2 separate regions of the Homo sapiens genome follow, and region 2 is linked to region 1. Evidence: fine-mapped expression QTL. Tissue or cell type: whole blood. Region 1 holds a variant in brackets; the other region holds the start of a gene. All regions are shown on one strand. Distances are between the middles of the regions.

Region 1 (8,108 bases):
ATTAAGGTTCACTCTAATCCAATATGATGTCATCTTAACTTGATTACATCTGCAGCAACCATATTTCCAAATAATGTCACATTCTGAAGTTCCAGAAAGGACATCAGTTTTAGAAGGTCACTGTCCAATACAACTATGATATGCCTAGGCATTGTTTTCTTTGGATTTACAATGATGGGGGTTCACTGAGATGTTTTGAATCTGTAAATTTATGTTTCACTATATTGGAGAAACATTTTGTGAAAACATTTACCCATAAAAGGGGAAATATGGTTCCTTCACATTTAAAAAACATTTCATTCTCATTCTCTTTTCATTCTAGAATTCCAATTAGACGTATGTTAGATCTTTTCATATTGTATCACAAATCTCCAATGCTTTGTTTATATTTTGGAGCAGATAATTTCCACTAATCTATCCTCAAGTATATGGACTCTTCCCTTTGTCAATTCTATTACACCGCTAAAGCCATCCAGTGATGGCTTTTAATTTCAGCTGTTGTAATTTTCAGTTCTATAATTTCCATTTGATACCTTTTTAGAGTTTCCACTTCTCCACGAGCTTTCCTATCTTTTCATTTATGACATGCATATCCTTTACATCCTTGAGCATAATTATAATAGCTGCTTTAAATTTCTTATCTGCTAACTCCAACAACAGGGTCACCTTGGGGTTATTCTCAATTGATCAATTTCCTTCTCTTGATAATGCTTTATATTTTCTTGGTTCCTTGTATGTTTCATAATATTGGATTGTATATTGGATATTGTGTATATTACATGGTGGAGACTCTGGATTCTGTTATAGTCCTCTAAAAAGAATTGAGTTCTAGAGGGCAATTAGCTTCATTTGACAAGAACTGCACACCTTCTTTTGGATGTCAGCTCAAATCTCATACAAATATTTTAACTTTTGGTGAAGTCTATCCTGCACATCTATGATTTGTGAATTAGCCAGAGATTTGGGCAGAGTATATACTCAAAATTTAGGGTTTCCCCCTTTTGGCTATCTTTTTTGCAAGATTGTCCTTCATTTCCCAGTGGTCTCATTTCATAACAGAAAGACCCTTATGTCTTTTCTATCAGGGTTTAGTCACCAAGGTGGAGCTGACATGGGCCTATCATTAGAATAAAAACCTAAGACATTCCTTTCTTCCAAGTTTCAAGTCCACTCTAAAATCTTCCTCTCTTCTTTACATTGCCTGCAGAACATTTTTTTCTCCAGAGTTGACAGTTGTTTTCCACAGGAAGTACAGCTATGATAAGAGCTTACTTAGTCATACCAGGTGCAGAAACAACATGGCATTGAGCAGAAGACACTGTAGCTGAGGAATTACATCTGTTTCTAAATTATATAATGACATATTTGAACCCAGATAAAAGGAGGGAAAAATATGACTCAGAGAACAAATTGCCATGAAGTCAACTTTTCAATCTGAGTTTGTTCATATCTTTTCTGCTTCTGTACAAGTGATTAATGCACTCTATATCTCAAAATTCAGTGGTGAAAATGAATACTGACTTAACATTGGCAAGAATCAAGAAACTCCATTTGGGATCCCATCAGAAAAAGAAAGACATATATTTCAGGGCCTTCTGAAGACCTGGTCTGTTTTCTAAGATAATTTAAACTGTCACTTACAAAGTTGTATATAACAAAAATAAATTTGAAGGATGTCTGCCCATTTCTCAAAGCCAAGCTCCATTCCCTTCCCTATAAATTTTTTTCTAATGTGTGCTTATATCAATATTAACTCATTTCACAACTGCCTATGCCATACCCAATAGTCCTTTGTTATATATTTACTTTTCTATTTGAGAATAATAAAGTTAGAAAGTAAGAGATCAGTTATACAAACTCACCATAAATGAGCACATTAAGTATATGTTAAGATATAACATTATTTTCTCTGAGAGAGAGAGAGAGAGGGACTACCAAATCACCATACCTTGAACAAGATAGAGATGAATGTTCCTTTCCCGTAACAGTTCAAGGTAAGCAGCAAGGGCAGGTGAGCTGACTCTACCATCTCAACCTATAACTTCCCTCTCACAGTCAAAGTGACTTCTTCAATTCTTATTATCTTCCAATGAGCAGAAAGGCAGAAAAGGACTATGGGATCTGAGCACAACCCTCTGTGAGAGCAAAAACAGTCCTGAAGAGGTACATATTTATCTGCTCACACCCCATTGGCTAGACCATACTTCAGTGGCACATATGGTTGCAAGACAGTCCAAGAAATGCAGTCATAATCTAGAAAGTCATGCATCCAGCTAAAATTCTGTCACCAAGAATAAGTGGTAAGTAGATACTGTGGGACAAACAGCATTATGTCACTCTCTAAATACATGAAATTTATGAGGACTAAATCCTGACATATTCTTGACTCCTTAAATTTGCAAATACCTCTCTCCCATATAATATATACCTTAAAATGCACATTGAACAAGAGATAATCACAGAATTGCACTGACATTGTGGTGCTAGGCTCAGCTGGCCCAGCCCTTTCCACAAAGGAGTGGTTAGCTATTTTCCATGTCTGCCTCACAGACTGTGATTTAACTTCATGCTTTGGAAAATGGTGTGTTAGTAGCTGGCCATGTGCCTTCAACTTGCTTAGGAATATTTGAAACTATGTAAGTGGATCAGTGCCTGATCCCAACTGTTCATTGGATCAAATGGAAAACACACACACACACACACACACACACACACATCATTCCTGAACAGTCTGACTTAATGGATCTGTAGCAGGGTCATGGCATCCCTTGTTGTAAAACTTGCACAGGTGATTCTAATGTATAACCAGAGTTGGGAACCACTGAGCTAAGACATTCAAACTCCACGTTGGCTGTGGGAGACATCAAAAAGCATTGGGCATGTCTCCTGGCTTCAAAAATATTTTAAACTGATTCATTGTCCATATCACATAATTCGTACTTTATTATATATTCTAATCCTCTAGTGTAACTTATGTCTAGACTATAACTTTGAGAATTAAACAAGAAACATGAATTGACTGTCATCTTTGTACCTGGCACTTTCAGGGTATGACAACTTTTACATAGGAAAGCGTCAAGGTTCCTTCTCTCAAGGCACCCTAGTCTAGCAGATAGAAAGAAAACTCCACAGGATCTAGTCTGTTAAGCTCTAAGCAATCAATCAATAATTGCATATAATTGATTTCAGTATTTTCTTTAATATGCTTAGTATTTGATATCTCATGGGTTCTTTTTATTTTTTATCTTATTTTATTTGAGATGGAATCTTGCTCTGTTGCCCACGCTGGAGTGCAGTGGCACCATCTCAGCTCACTGCAACCTCCACCTTCCGGGTTCAGGCAATTCTCCTGCCTCAGCCTCCCAAGTATTTGGGACTACAGGTCGAACTCCTGACCTCAAGTGATCCACCCACCTCGGCCCCCCAAAGTGCTGGGATTACAGACGTGAGCCACTACACCCAGCCTCATGGGTTCCTTTTAAATAGTTTTAGTACTGGCTGGGCACAATGGCTCACACCTGTAATCCCAGCACTTTGGGAGGCTGAGGTGGAAGGATTGCTTGAGCCAAGGAGTTCAAGACCAGCCTGGGCAATAAGGTGAAACTCCATCTCTATAGAAAACATAAAAATTAGCCGGGCATGGTGGTGCATGCCTGTAATCCCAGCTAATTGGGAGGCTGAGGCACGAGAATTGCTTGAGCCTGGGAGGTAGAGGTTGCAGTGAGCCGAGATCAGGCTACTGCACTCCAGCCTGGGTGACAGTGAAACTCTGTCTCAAACAACAACAACAACAACAACATTTTAGTCCCATATGTTAGTGAAGGTGTCCTAGGTTCTTGGTGCAAAAAGTAAAAGAATATACATTCAACTCTGTGTGGATCAGAAACCCAAATCAAGAATGGCTTAAACCAGGTAGAAATGTGCTCATCACATGTACAAGGAGGCAGGGCCCAGGGCTGTGGTGGCACTCCACATGGGAGTACCATTCATCTTTTTCTCCATCTCTCTGGTTATAGCATTGAGTATGCAAGGTCCAAACATTATCACAAGGCACACGGGAAAAAGAGGTCCTAGTAGAGAGCTAACCAGGTCCAAAACAAAGACTAGAATCCATTAAAAAGGGATTGTAGCCAACTGAGTTTGCATTTTCACCTAATTTGTCAATGATTCTAATTGAGTCTTTAAGCACTCATAAATTCTCCTCTACCTAACTGGAGGTGTTGATCCAGAAACAGCATGTTTCATTTACAAATGCACAAGCGCCCCTTACTTCAGCCATAAGGACATCAAGAGTTTGTCTATTTTGCATGGCCACTGAGGCCAGAGAATTTATGG[A/G]CTGCTCTTGGGCTTTTATGGCTCCTACAGTTACCTTTCACCCTTGTTACATCATGATAGAAATATTAAGCACTGATCTTTCAAGAAGGGGAACACCGCCAAGCCAAAATAGGCCTCTGGCTATTGCATATTTTATTCCGTTTTTCTAATATAGGATTGCCATGTGCATATTCTTGCCAGTTCTCTCTCTTTCATTTTAATCTCCATATGATGGCATAGAGATAAGTGATCTCCTGTTTTGGTATGTGTGATGGAATGCACTTTCTGTAAAAGAGCCCAAATTGGCGATGTCACCCAACAATGCTACCCTGTCAGTGGGGTTTAAAAATAACAAATTGGGGACCATTGCCACTATAGTGCATGTTCCTCTCCAGCGCCTGGGGAGGAATAAGCATAGCCTGGAGCCACAGAGAAAGTAAAGCCCTGTTCCCTGAAGGGATGGTTCTATGTTGTGATTTATGAGGGTTCCAGCTAAGTTTAGTCCAGGCCTTATAAGGTTGCCTTCCCTACATCTAATTCAAGCATCTTTAGAATAAGGATATCCATACTTAGTATAGTCATCCACAGTATTGTTTGGAACTTTACATGCTGGGAGGGAAGAATCTGTTTGGCAAATATAGTTTTGAAAGATCAGAGACGCAATATGTTCCAGCCAGTATCTTAGACAACCCTCCTTACAGCGGCTATTGGCCCAGACATCCCCTGTTCATTCACAAATCTGCAGATCACTGTCATTATCAAATATCATACAAGGGTCCAGGATTCCATGTGTGGGCATGTTTGGGAAGGACCATGTGCTATTTATTACCTGATAATAAGGTTGGCGAGGGGTGGCATTTCTGCCCGGGGTAGACATTCCCATTGGGAACTCCACCTGGGAGGTCTGGCTAGATTGTTAAAATTTTTCCACAGTCTCTCCCAATGTTTGGTGTCACCCTTGTTCCTTCTTAGTCTCCAGATCTCTGTGCTCTCAGCAATTACAAGCATACTGTTGCAATTATTTAAGGTTTCCCGAGTATGGTCCTTTTCCTTTACTCTTAAAGCAGAGACAGGCATTGGCTATCATTCTATCAACTTCACCTAGTCTAAGGGTGTGAGTTTTACCATCAGGAGGTGTGTCTTTCTGGGTGGAGTTAAAAATGCTCCCATACCATGTTCCCTTTATACCTATTAGGTCCTTAATGATTTAAGGTAAAGCCATCAGAGGGAAACCCTAAGATAGTGAGTTCTGAATCATCAAAGAGTCCATTGGTGTTATTAAACTGAGTAAATTGTTCAGGGCAAACCCAGTAATCAGTCTTGTTGTAGAGATCGGTAATATCTGATATTGTAGGAGCCAAAGAATGTGAGGCATTGCTACATCTAACAGTGAATGCTAGTAAACTTGATAGTAACAAAATCTTCATGTTTATCTCTTGCCTGTGACTACTATCCCTGCTATATGAATAATAACTAAGCAAAAGATTATGGCAATTGAGACTCTTTTCCCAATATTCCACTTAGAAGGTGCCACAGTATGCAGTCCTACTGCAAAGAGCAAGGTGAGTACAACAATTCCCATATGTGTGAAGTAATAAAGTTCCACTTTAAATCTTACTCACCGAGATATATAATTTCTTCGTGGGGGTGGTTTATGAGGTTATGAATGGAATCCCATGGATAATCAAAATCTCCCTGTAAGTATGTGACAAAGAGAAGTTCTAATATCTAACAGCAAATCTCAAGAGGAAAGGTAGAAATGACTTTAGTATCTGGTAAGGAAGGGTGGGATTGAACTGAACAGAGAGTTCCCACTCATTTACTTATCTTTTGGATTTTCAGTTTGAAATCCCCAGACTTTTCACACTGATATCTGAGATGTTCTTCTGGGATGTCAGGGGTCATTCCAGGCCTTGACTCGAGTGTGATGAATCCAAGATTCCAGTCCCACAAACTTCACTGCCGAGCAGGTGGAGAGAAGGATGGTATAAGGTTCCTCCCAGCTGGGACCTAGAGAGGGGAAAAGAGAGGAAAAATCCTTCACCAGTACCAAGTCTCCTTGGTAGAACAGAGGTGGCCCTAGTTCTTGGGGTTGGAATTCTGATAACTGTTTTAATTCCTGCTAGAACTGGGCCAGGGAGGTTACATGTTTAACCAATTCAGAAGTTCTCTGATGTAATATAAAATCATTGGTAAGGAAAGGCCGTCCATATACCATTTCAAAAGGGTGAAGGAACACCCCTTCAACCCCAAATTTGAAGGGGTGCTCCTCACCTGCACTAAGGCTATAGGAAGATAAGCAGTTTAGAGGAGGTGAGTTTCTTGAGACCACTTCCTGAGGTGTCTCTTAATGATATCATTTGTTTTCTCCACCTTCCCTGAAGACTGCAGTCTTCAAGCACAATGAAGATGGTATTGTATGCTCAGTGCTTTTGAGACCCCTTGGGTAACAGCTGCCTTAAATGAGGGGCCATTGTCACTTTGGAGGTATTTAGGGAGTCCAAAACGAGGAATTATTTCATTGACTAATGCTTTTATCACCTTAGAGGACTTTCTGTTTGACATAGAAATGCCTCTACCCAGCTAGTGAAGGCATCCACCCACAACAAGAGGTGCTGAATTCCCCTTATCTTTGGAAAATGGGTAAAATCCATTTGCCAGTCCTCCCCTGGGCAGTTTCCCATTCTTTGTGTTGCTGGGGATGGGGAGATGCCATTTGTTGAGGGGATTGTTTTTGAGGCAGATCTTATAAGCATTAACAATTTGTTTGACTGTTTTTGGTAGATATTTACCTGAGAACAACCTCTGGGCTATTTGATGAGTTTTATTCTTTCCCAAGTGAAAAGTTTGGTGAAGGATCTTAAGAACTTTCCACTGACTGGAGACTGACAAATAACATTTGCCATCCTCTGATTGTAACCATCCTGAGGGCTGAAAAGTGTATCCTCGAGAGGTGGCCCATTCTATCTCTGCAGGAGAATACTGAGGCTTTATTTCCCTTATGGAGCCCTCCCAAATTAGACAGCCTTCAAGTGTGCTGGGACTTTGGGGTCTTCTTACTGCTGACTTAGCTGTTTGGTCTGCTAGCCTATTTCCTTCAGCTATTTCATCCATCCCCTTCTGGTGTCCTTTGCAATGTATCATTGCCACTTCCTGCAGAAGGAAAACTGAGGACAACAATCTATTTCCTAATGGTATTTAATAAAAGAGCCATTAGCAGTCAGGGAGTGTCTTTCTTTCCAAATAGCGGCATGAGCATGAAGAACCAGGAAAGCATACTTAGAATCCATATATATGTTAACTGCCTTAGCTTTGCTTAGTTCAAGCACCCTCATGACAGCAATTAACTCAGCTAATTGAGCACTGTACCTGGTGAAAGAGGTGTGCTTTTAATGATGTCATCCAGGGTGACTATTGCATACCCTGCCCTACAGGTTCCTTGTTCTATAATAGAACTTTACTTGTAAAGACAGCCCAGTCTCAGTTTTCTAGAGGAGTTTCCTGGATGTCCTCTCTGGCTGCATAGGTTTGCATCACTATTTTTTCACAATCATGTTCAGGTTCTCCAATTTCATCTGGAAGGAAAGTGGCTGAGTTCAGGAAAGGACAGGCCTTTAACTGAACTGCAGATCCCTCCAGCAGCAAAACTTAATATTTGAGGAGGCGATTATCTGTTAGCCAGAGACTTCCTTTAGAGGATAACAGTCCCTTTACATTATAGGGGGTGTAAACAATCAGGTCATTCCTCATGCTCAACTTAGTCACTTCTGGCACCAGCAAAGCCACCACTGCAA
Region 2 (8,108 bases), 69 kb before region 1:
CAGGCTTGGATCCCAACTCTCTTCCAGGGTCTGGGGCAGTGGAGCAGCCCCCACCAGCTCTGTTAAAAGCCTTCGGGCAAATGGAGCTGCCCTTTCCTTTCCTGTTTAGTATCAAGGTCACCGAATGGGAGCATCCGGCAGACCTAGGCAGCCTCAGACTTTCTGAGACTCGATTACAAAGCCTACTTTTTATGGGAGTCGGTTTCAAACATCTGTTAAGATTGGGCAGGATAAGAGAAAACCCATCTTTATGAAATTTTTTTTTTTGAGATGGAGTCTCTCTCTGTCACCCAGGCTGGAGTGCAGTGGTGCGATCTCGGCTCACTGCAACCTCCACCTCCCAGGTTTTAGCGATTCTCCTGCCTCAGCCTCCCGAGTAGTTGGGATTACAGGCACGTGCCACCATGCTCAGCTAATTTTTTGTATGTTTAGTAGAGATGGGGTTTCACCGTGTTAGCCAGGATGGTCTCAATCTGCTGACCTCGTGATCCACCCACCTCGGCCTCCCAAAGTGCTGGGATTACAGGCATGAGCCACCACGCCTGGCCCAAAATCATTTATTAAATTTTTTTTAAGGTAAACATGTCATAAATGAGGCAAACATTTAAAAATGTGTAAAATGCATTCATTGTAGAAGACGGACCTGTCTCTCTCAATTGAAATTAAGCAAACAGTGATCTTCGCTGGCTACCGAATTGTTTGGAAATCCTTCATGATGTTATCCCTCATATCTAATGCCCTTATTCTTTAGATAATTAAAACATTGCAGTAGGAAGAGGATCAAGATGCAGTGATGCAAACACAACTTTGCAACGGGAATTCAGAAGACTGGATTTTTGTCTGATCTGGGGACAACGGGTGGTCCCAGGAGAAACCCTGACCTTTCTTTGTCTCAATTTACATTTCTGAAAGATTAGGGAATTTTGAACATTTTAAATGTTTATATCTTATATAACACTAACTGATCATTGCTTTCATTTAGACAAAACCAAAATGGCAGCCAGGTTATTGCCAGTGACACATTTGAAGTTGTAGGACCTTAAGGTTCCAGAGTTCCTGCCTCTTTTCGCTAACCTCATCTCATTTCACTTTCAACTGCAGGCTTGTGAAAATTAAGCAAAACCAAACCAAAACACAAGCTCTATGTGCTATGGATAGAAACTGCTGGAAGAGTTATAAATTTTTTTTTCTTTTTATATTATACTTTAAGTTCTGGGATACATGTGCAGAACATGCAGGTTTGTTACATGAGTATACACGTGTCATGGTGGTTTGCTGCACCCGTCAACCCCTCATCTACATTAGTTATTTCTCCTAATGCTATTCCTCCCCTAGCCCCGCCACCCGCCAACAGGCCCCAGTGTGTGATATTCCCTCCCTGTGTCCACGTGTTCTCATTGTTCAACTGCCACTTATGAGTGAGACTATGCGGTGTTTGAAGAGGTATAAAATGTAAAGACAGCTCTACGGTGTGGCCCAGAAGCTGTGCTTCTCACAGGTTCCCAGGCGGTGCTGGGGACGCTGGCCCAGGGTCTCCACTCGGAATCACTGCCATCAGGTGTCTCATTCTAACGCTAATTCAAAATTATTAAGGGCCACTGTGGGCCTTCTAACATATTCCCTTTTTTGAAAGAGTTCTCTGAAACTGAAACCTAACTAAGACTCTGAACTAAAGTTAGGAACTCATTTTTACTGATTAAAAAAAAAAAAAAAAAAGAAAGAAAAAAAAACTATAGCCCTCGCTAATATTGCTTCTAAATAGCAGGGCAGACAGGCAGTCTGGGCGCACCCAGTCATGATGGTGTCACTCGCCCTTCCCCAAATCCCCATCAGGATGAATCAAGGCAACATGACCCTCTGGGAACATTCCCCAGGCCCTTCCCCCAGTATGGCTTCTGGGAGCAACTGTGGGGCCAGGGGGTTTCCCAAAAGCCAGCTTTCCCATGACAAAAGTGCACAGAACATGCCCCACCCTTCAGTTCCTACGTCCTTGGAAGCACCAAGCAAGTCATACAAAGTCGTGGAATCACAGAGGATGGATTCACATAGGACGTTTCTAGTAAAACAGTGCAAGCTTCTCCTTGGCCAAAACCAGAGGGCTTCCTTCTGATGCCCCAAGTGGTGCTTGGGTCCCTGGCCAGGGAAACAGTTCACTCTCCCAGTACCTGCCCTTGTGCATTTGTCATAGGATTAGAAATGAGTAGCCAGCATGCTCATGGCCGTGTATTACAGCATAAATATTCAGAAACTTGCTTTAGACATCACTTACAGATTCTTTCCTGAAACTTCACATAGAACGTACAGAAACACAAGTATTGTGTGAAGCAGTTGTGGGGCCAGGGAGGTGCCCGGGCTTTGAGGGCACGTAGCCTTTGCCATGCAATAGCTTCTGGAATTACACGCATGGCCTGCTCCCCAGCTTCCCCACCAGCAGGGACTGGGGCGTGGACCGGGGATGGAGACTGGGGGTGGGGGTCCACCTGTGGACCTCCGATAGGAGGGAGCTGCTTGGCCCTTCTCTGGCCCATCTCTGGCAGGCAGTTGCTGGACAAACTGCAGAGGTCTCCACCTGCAGCATCCAAGGCACACAGGCTCTTCATAAAAATCCCTTTCTCCTGTCCCCTTCCAATTGGTGGCAGCTGCCACTCAGCATCTTTGGTTTTAAACAGTGAAATGGCTTCCCAGATGTCAGGGGGGAAAATCAGTGCAAGGCCTAGACTCGGAATTCCAAGTCGCCCCATCCAGATAGCTGCACCGAGAAGAGAGAAGACACAGGACCGTTTTGTCGTTTTCATTTCCGTTTTCTTTTACTAGGAAATTGAAATCGGGTTTCTGGTCTCCGCACTACGGGCTCAGAGGGTTCTTTGGTGTTGGGGAGGCATCGAGCCTTTGGTGCTGCACACACCCTAAACCCTGGCTCCACCCGTAGATGCCAAGAGCCCCCTCCAGCTGCGATCGCCAAAAATGTTTCCAGACTTTCCACCTACCTCCAGGGGCAAAATCACCTAGGATGAGAACCACATAATTCAGGGGCGTCCAGTCTTTTGGCTTCCCTGGGCCACATTGGAAGAAGAATTATTGTCTTGGGCCACACATAAAATACACCACACTAGCAATAGCTGATGAGCTAAAGAAAATCATAGCTGAGAAATCTCAATGTTTTTAAAAGGTTTACAAATTTGGGTTGGGCTGCATTCAAAGCCACCCCAGGCCACATGGGCTGCAGGTTGGACAAGTTTGAAATAAGTTATGCTATGGCAAACAATAAGCTGATATTATACAAATATTTTACTTACAAAAAAATAACTACCATAAAAAGATGTACGTGGAGGCGTGTGTGTGTGTGTGTTGGGTTGTGTGGGAAGGGGTGTGAGCATATGTGTGTGTTGAATGTGGGTGTGTGTGTGTTGGGTTGTGTGGGAAAGGGTGTGAGCAAGTGTGTGTGTTGAATGTGGGTGTGTGTGTGTTGGGTTGTGTGGGAAGGGGTGTGAGCATGCGTGTGTGTTGAATGTGGGGGTGTGTGTGTTGGATTGTGTGGGAAGGGGTGTGAGCAAGTGTGTGTGTTGAATGTGGGTATGTGTGTGTTGTGTGGGATATAAGTCTGTGTAATGTGTGTTACATATGATGCATGTGTTTATGTGTGTAGTGTGGGTGTTGGTGTGTGTGTATGTATGTATCTGTGTGTTTACATCTGTGGTGTATGTGTATGCATGTTTGTGTAGTGTGTGTTAGTGTCTGTGTATGTGTGTGGTATCTGTGTATTTTTGTGTGTAGTGTATGTGTGTGCATGTTTGTGTAGTGTGTGTTAGTGTCTGTGTATGTGTGTGGTATTGTGTGTTTATGTGTGTGGTGTATGTGTGTGCATGTTTGTGTGTGGCATGTGTTGGTGTGTGGCATTTGTGTGTTTATATGTGTGTTGTGTGTATGCATGTCTGTGTGTATATGTGTGGTGTCTGTGTGTTTCTGTGTGTGGAATATGTGTATGCATGTTTGTGTGTTGCATGGTGTGTGTATGTATGTGTGTGATATCTCTGTGTTTGTGTGTGTGGTGTCTGTGTATTCATTTTGTGTGTGTGGTGTGCACGTGTGTGGCATGCGTGTGTTTAAGTGTGTGATATATACATACACACGTGTGTGTTTATGTGTGTGGTGTATGTGTATTCATTCTGTGTGTGTGGTGTGCATGTGTGTGGCATATGTGTGTGTACGTGTGTGGTATATACATACACACATTTATGGATGGGGGTGTGTGTGTGTTGTGTGGGATATAAGTCTGATGAGGTAAAGAAGCTCCAGGAGATTCTCTTTGGTTGAATCTCATGCCATGAGACTTGGCTTCTGGCCACGATGGAGTGAGAAGCCTGGACTGACCTTTCTGCCTGGAGCAAGGGAACACCGTGTAGAACCGGCACGGCGCATCTTCCAGACGGCAGTGCCCAGGCTGCTTGGCAGGCACCCCTGCAGGAGGGGTCAGGGAGGTGGGCACCCAGCGGTCCCTCAGCACCCGTCCCGTGTGGCACAGTCCAGCCGCCTCCCAGGGCCGAGGAGGGGAGACGCAGGCTCCTGGGCTGCTCCCACCCAGGCCCCTGGAACAGCGCATCTTCTGTGACCGTGGTGAAGGAAAATCTCAGCCTCTGCTTCCCACCTCCTCAGCCCCTGCCTCAACAGGAAGCCCACAGCGCAAGAGACGCCATTCTAGGGCCAGGAAGGAAGAGCCTCAGACCCTGGAATTGCCATGTACAAACTAGACGTGTATTTATGGTGTGTCTGAATGTACAACAATTTCCTGTTTCGGAGAAAATAGTTCCTTCCTGGAAGGGCTGTTCTGTATTTGCACACTTTTCCCATGTGATTTTGGGGAAAAGTACCTGACTTTCTGTGAATAGACGCACTTTTTCTTACCGAAAATAATGATAGTTTCAATCTGGCTATAATCGTTCATATTCATGATTTTTTTCGGATGTAGAAATCAGCAGTTTTGCATTGTAAGACCTCACCCATCCACCACTCACCGTCCCCACACCCCTGGGAACAGGAGGAACCTCACAGAAGAAGAAGGTGGATTTTACTACCTACTTGCCACACCTCAATCTCTCTGTCTGTAAGCAGAGAGAATACGGTAATAATAATATTAATAATGATAATAATAATACCTTTCTCACAAGTTCGCAGGGAGGGATGAGTTCATGCACATAAAATGCTCAGCCCAGCACAGCTGAGCACACGATTCTCAGCACTATTACTTGCATTCTTGTCACTGAAAGGAAGAGGGAACGGAGTGTGACAGCGCAGGTTAGACCCCCGGCGCAGCCATCCACCTGCCACTTTGTCACAGGGACTCCACGACTAACTGCCGCCCTATTTTCCCATAAGCAGGCAATGGTGATGATAAAATCATTCTCAAAGCTTAGGGAGGCCAGGACCCAACCCAGGGCCGATCAACGCAAAGCCCTTGCTGCTTCCTATCCCATAAAACCCAATTATTTATGAATGTGAACCTAAAGCCGCATCCTAATTTAGAAGGCATGGAGATAACATGGCCAAGCAGCCGCCTCTCCAGGCAGCGAGATGACTAGGTAGGTCCCAGAGCCCTGAGCATGTCCCCTAGAAAACAACTCAAGACAAGTGCATTTGCATGCCTTCTTCTGTCTCTCTGAAATCACTCAGTTATAGTCACTCAGTGTGTGCTCACAAACACTGAGTCTCCCCTACACGTGATGCATTTCAGTACCAGGGCAATTCGAGTGAGAAACATGGCCATAGCCCCCAGCCTCTTGGACTATCAGAACTCTTAGGAAGTACAAGGATTGAAATATGTGGTCTAACAGCAGAGCGGTATTTTTCTCATTGTACCACCTTGTTGTAAAAAATTGCTGGAGCCTGAAGGAAACCACCTATGGGAAGGGTGTGAGTCAATGGTTCCCCACTTCTGCAGAGTTCCTTCTGAGCAGCTCAGAGCCCACCCCGTGTGGACACATCTCTTACCAAGATGACCTTCCCCTAGCGGGAAACGGAGGAATGAGCAGGCGGCACTCACAGTGCCAATTACAGCAAGGGGATTTGCATAGGAGACCTAACTGCCTGTTTCAATTAGGAGCAGCAACTCCCTCCTTCTTCCTTCCCAAGGAGCCAGGAACACCAGGCATGTGGGTTTGGATTTGTCTGGGAGGAGGCATGACTGTGCGCACCAGAGTGAAAGCCTCCCCACTCACACTGCTCACCTGGAGAGAGGCTCAGGGATCCTGGCAGGCGCAATGTTTGAGAAATGCCCAGGCGAAGAAGATGAATGCTTCCTTTCACCGGGCCCTCCCTGGCTTTAACTCTTCTTAGTCCTGTCTCTGGGAGACCCTGGCAGCCCCTCGCAGCTGTGACCTCTCTAAACTGTCAGCCTCAGATTAACTGATACTTCATCAATTTTGCCTGAACTGCATTTGCAACCCGGTCTCAAGAGGACAGCCAAGTGCATCAACGCTGGGCATTAACCCCCCAGAACCAGATTGCCTTCAAAACGAGGGGGACTTTTCCAATATTCTCACAGCGGCCCGGGCAACAAGCCTAGGGGGACTTTGGCCAGAGGGGAGAGAAGGGGCCTCTGATTATTCCTTGTAAATTTTTCATGAGGACATCTGCCCATACTCTGCGCCTCCTCCAGAGCTGCCCTCTCTCTCTCTCTCCCTTCCTCTGTCTCTGTGTTCAGGCCTCTGACAAGGCATGAAAAACGAGAATGATTGGGCCTCAGTCCCCATTAGCCAGGAAGTGACTGATGGGAGGATGGGCGTGTGTGGTGACTTCAGGCTTGGGAGGGGCCGGGGCTGCCGGGTTTTGAAACAAAAGACCAGTCAGGAATGGATGAGTCCTAGGTGGATCTGCAGATGGAGGCTGTGCTGTGAGTAGGTGGCTAAGGTGCACAGATGGTCATGGCTGATAGGCCAGCCTGGCCCGGGCTCCTGGTTCTGCAGACCCCAGCTCTGGGCTGGAAAATCGGTCCCCGCCTCCCCCATCTTCCCCAAGATTGTCCCCGTCCTTCCTCGGGCAGACCTTCACCGTGGAGCAGAAAGCTGCCTACAATATCGCCCAAATCAAAGCCAAGAAGAATTAGAGTGTAGGGACAGGGGAACAGGGAAGTGCTTTTTTAATTTAAATAATAAAAAATAAAAAATAGTCATTCTTTTGGAAATACTAGCAGCTTACAAGCTTTAAAATCCTCTTTCCCAACAGTTTAAATCAAAAGCCAGCAGCCCTTTCTCATGGATGCATCAAATCATGCAGATGTCCTTTTTGTGCCCCCTTTAAGGTGACATGTGCTTCAATTTATTTTTAATCTTCTAAGTGATGTCATCAGGACGCCGCCCGGGTGACACGGGAGGTGGCTGCTCCTGGGGCTGTGGGTCTGGGCAGTGCAAGCTCCACGCGCACTGACCCCATGGGCTCAACCCAGAGTCCACAGTCAGAAACCGGCCCCGGGCGGCAGGAGACGCTGCAGAGGGAGATTCCATAGAAGAGGTAAATTCATTAAGAAACTCATCACCGAGCACACCTTAGAAATCCCACCTTTTGTGCTCAACGTGGCCGGGTCCCCGGGGACGCCGTTGGCAGCTCTCCATGGAGCAACAGTGCCACCCAGTGGTCAGTCCTCGCGATGCCGCCGCCCGCTCCCCTGTGCGGTCCTCAGCGGCCTGGGAGAAGACAGAGAAAATGAGTTGGTACAAACGCTTGCCCCGAATATCACATCTTTAAATAGTTACCCACATGAAAGAAGGCCTGCAACTGATTCAAAACCACCTCGATGAAAAAAATCTGAGCACACCCATCAAAGGCACTGCGCACAGAACTCAGGAATGTTTTCTGCTGTTTGGAGTTTTCTTCTCCCCTCCTCCCTCCTCAATAACGATACTGGTGATTACATCTTCCAGGGGAAAATAAAATTAAATGCATCGACTTAATTGTTTAATTAGTGTGAGCATAGGTAGTACTATCCAATTCAAAGATCTAAGCAACTGAAATTCCATTTGGAGGGAGTTCCCCCACTACGGGAAAAGGAAGCAGGAGTGTCACAGGATTGGGGATCACACAGATGGAGGGAGAAATCTGGCCCTACATCTCCCGCG

Evidence for each region. PIP is the estimated chance that this variant, and not a neighbour inherited with it, causes the effect.
Region 2: it holds the start of LINC00487, and the variant in region 1 is fine-mapped to the expression of LINC00487 in whole blood (TOPMed, PIP 0.99).

The regions. Positions count from the first base shown.
Region 1 is chr2:6,834,355-6,842,462 of GRCh38, forward strand. It overlaps NRIR (negative regulator of interferon response), which reads right to left and starts at 6,110. Exons shown (of 4, transcript NR_126359.1): 1 at 5,937-6,110. It also overlaps a transcript of CMPK2 not described here. The variant A/G (reference allele first, on the strand shown) is at 4,336.
Region 2 is chr2:6,765,708-6,773,815 of GRCh38, forward strand. It overlaps LINC00487 (long intergenic non-protein coding RNA 487), which reads right to left and starts at 4,604. Exons shown (of 6, transcript NR_038369.1): 1 at 4,372-4,604. LOC105373404 (a long non-coding RNA gene) reads right to left here. Exons shown (of 4, transcript XR_922745.3): 4 at 7,116-7,676. RefSeq lists an enhancer at 7,460-8,108.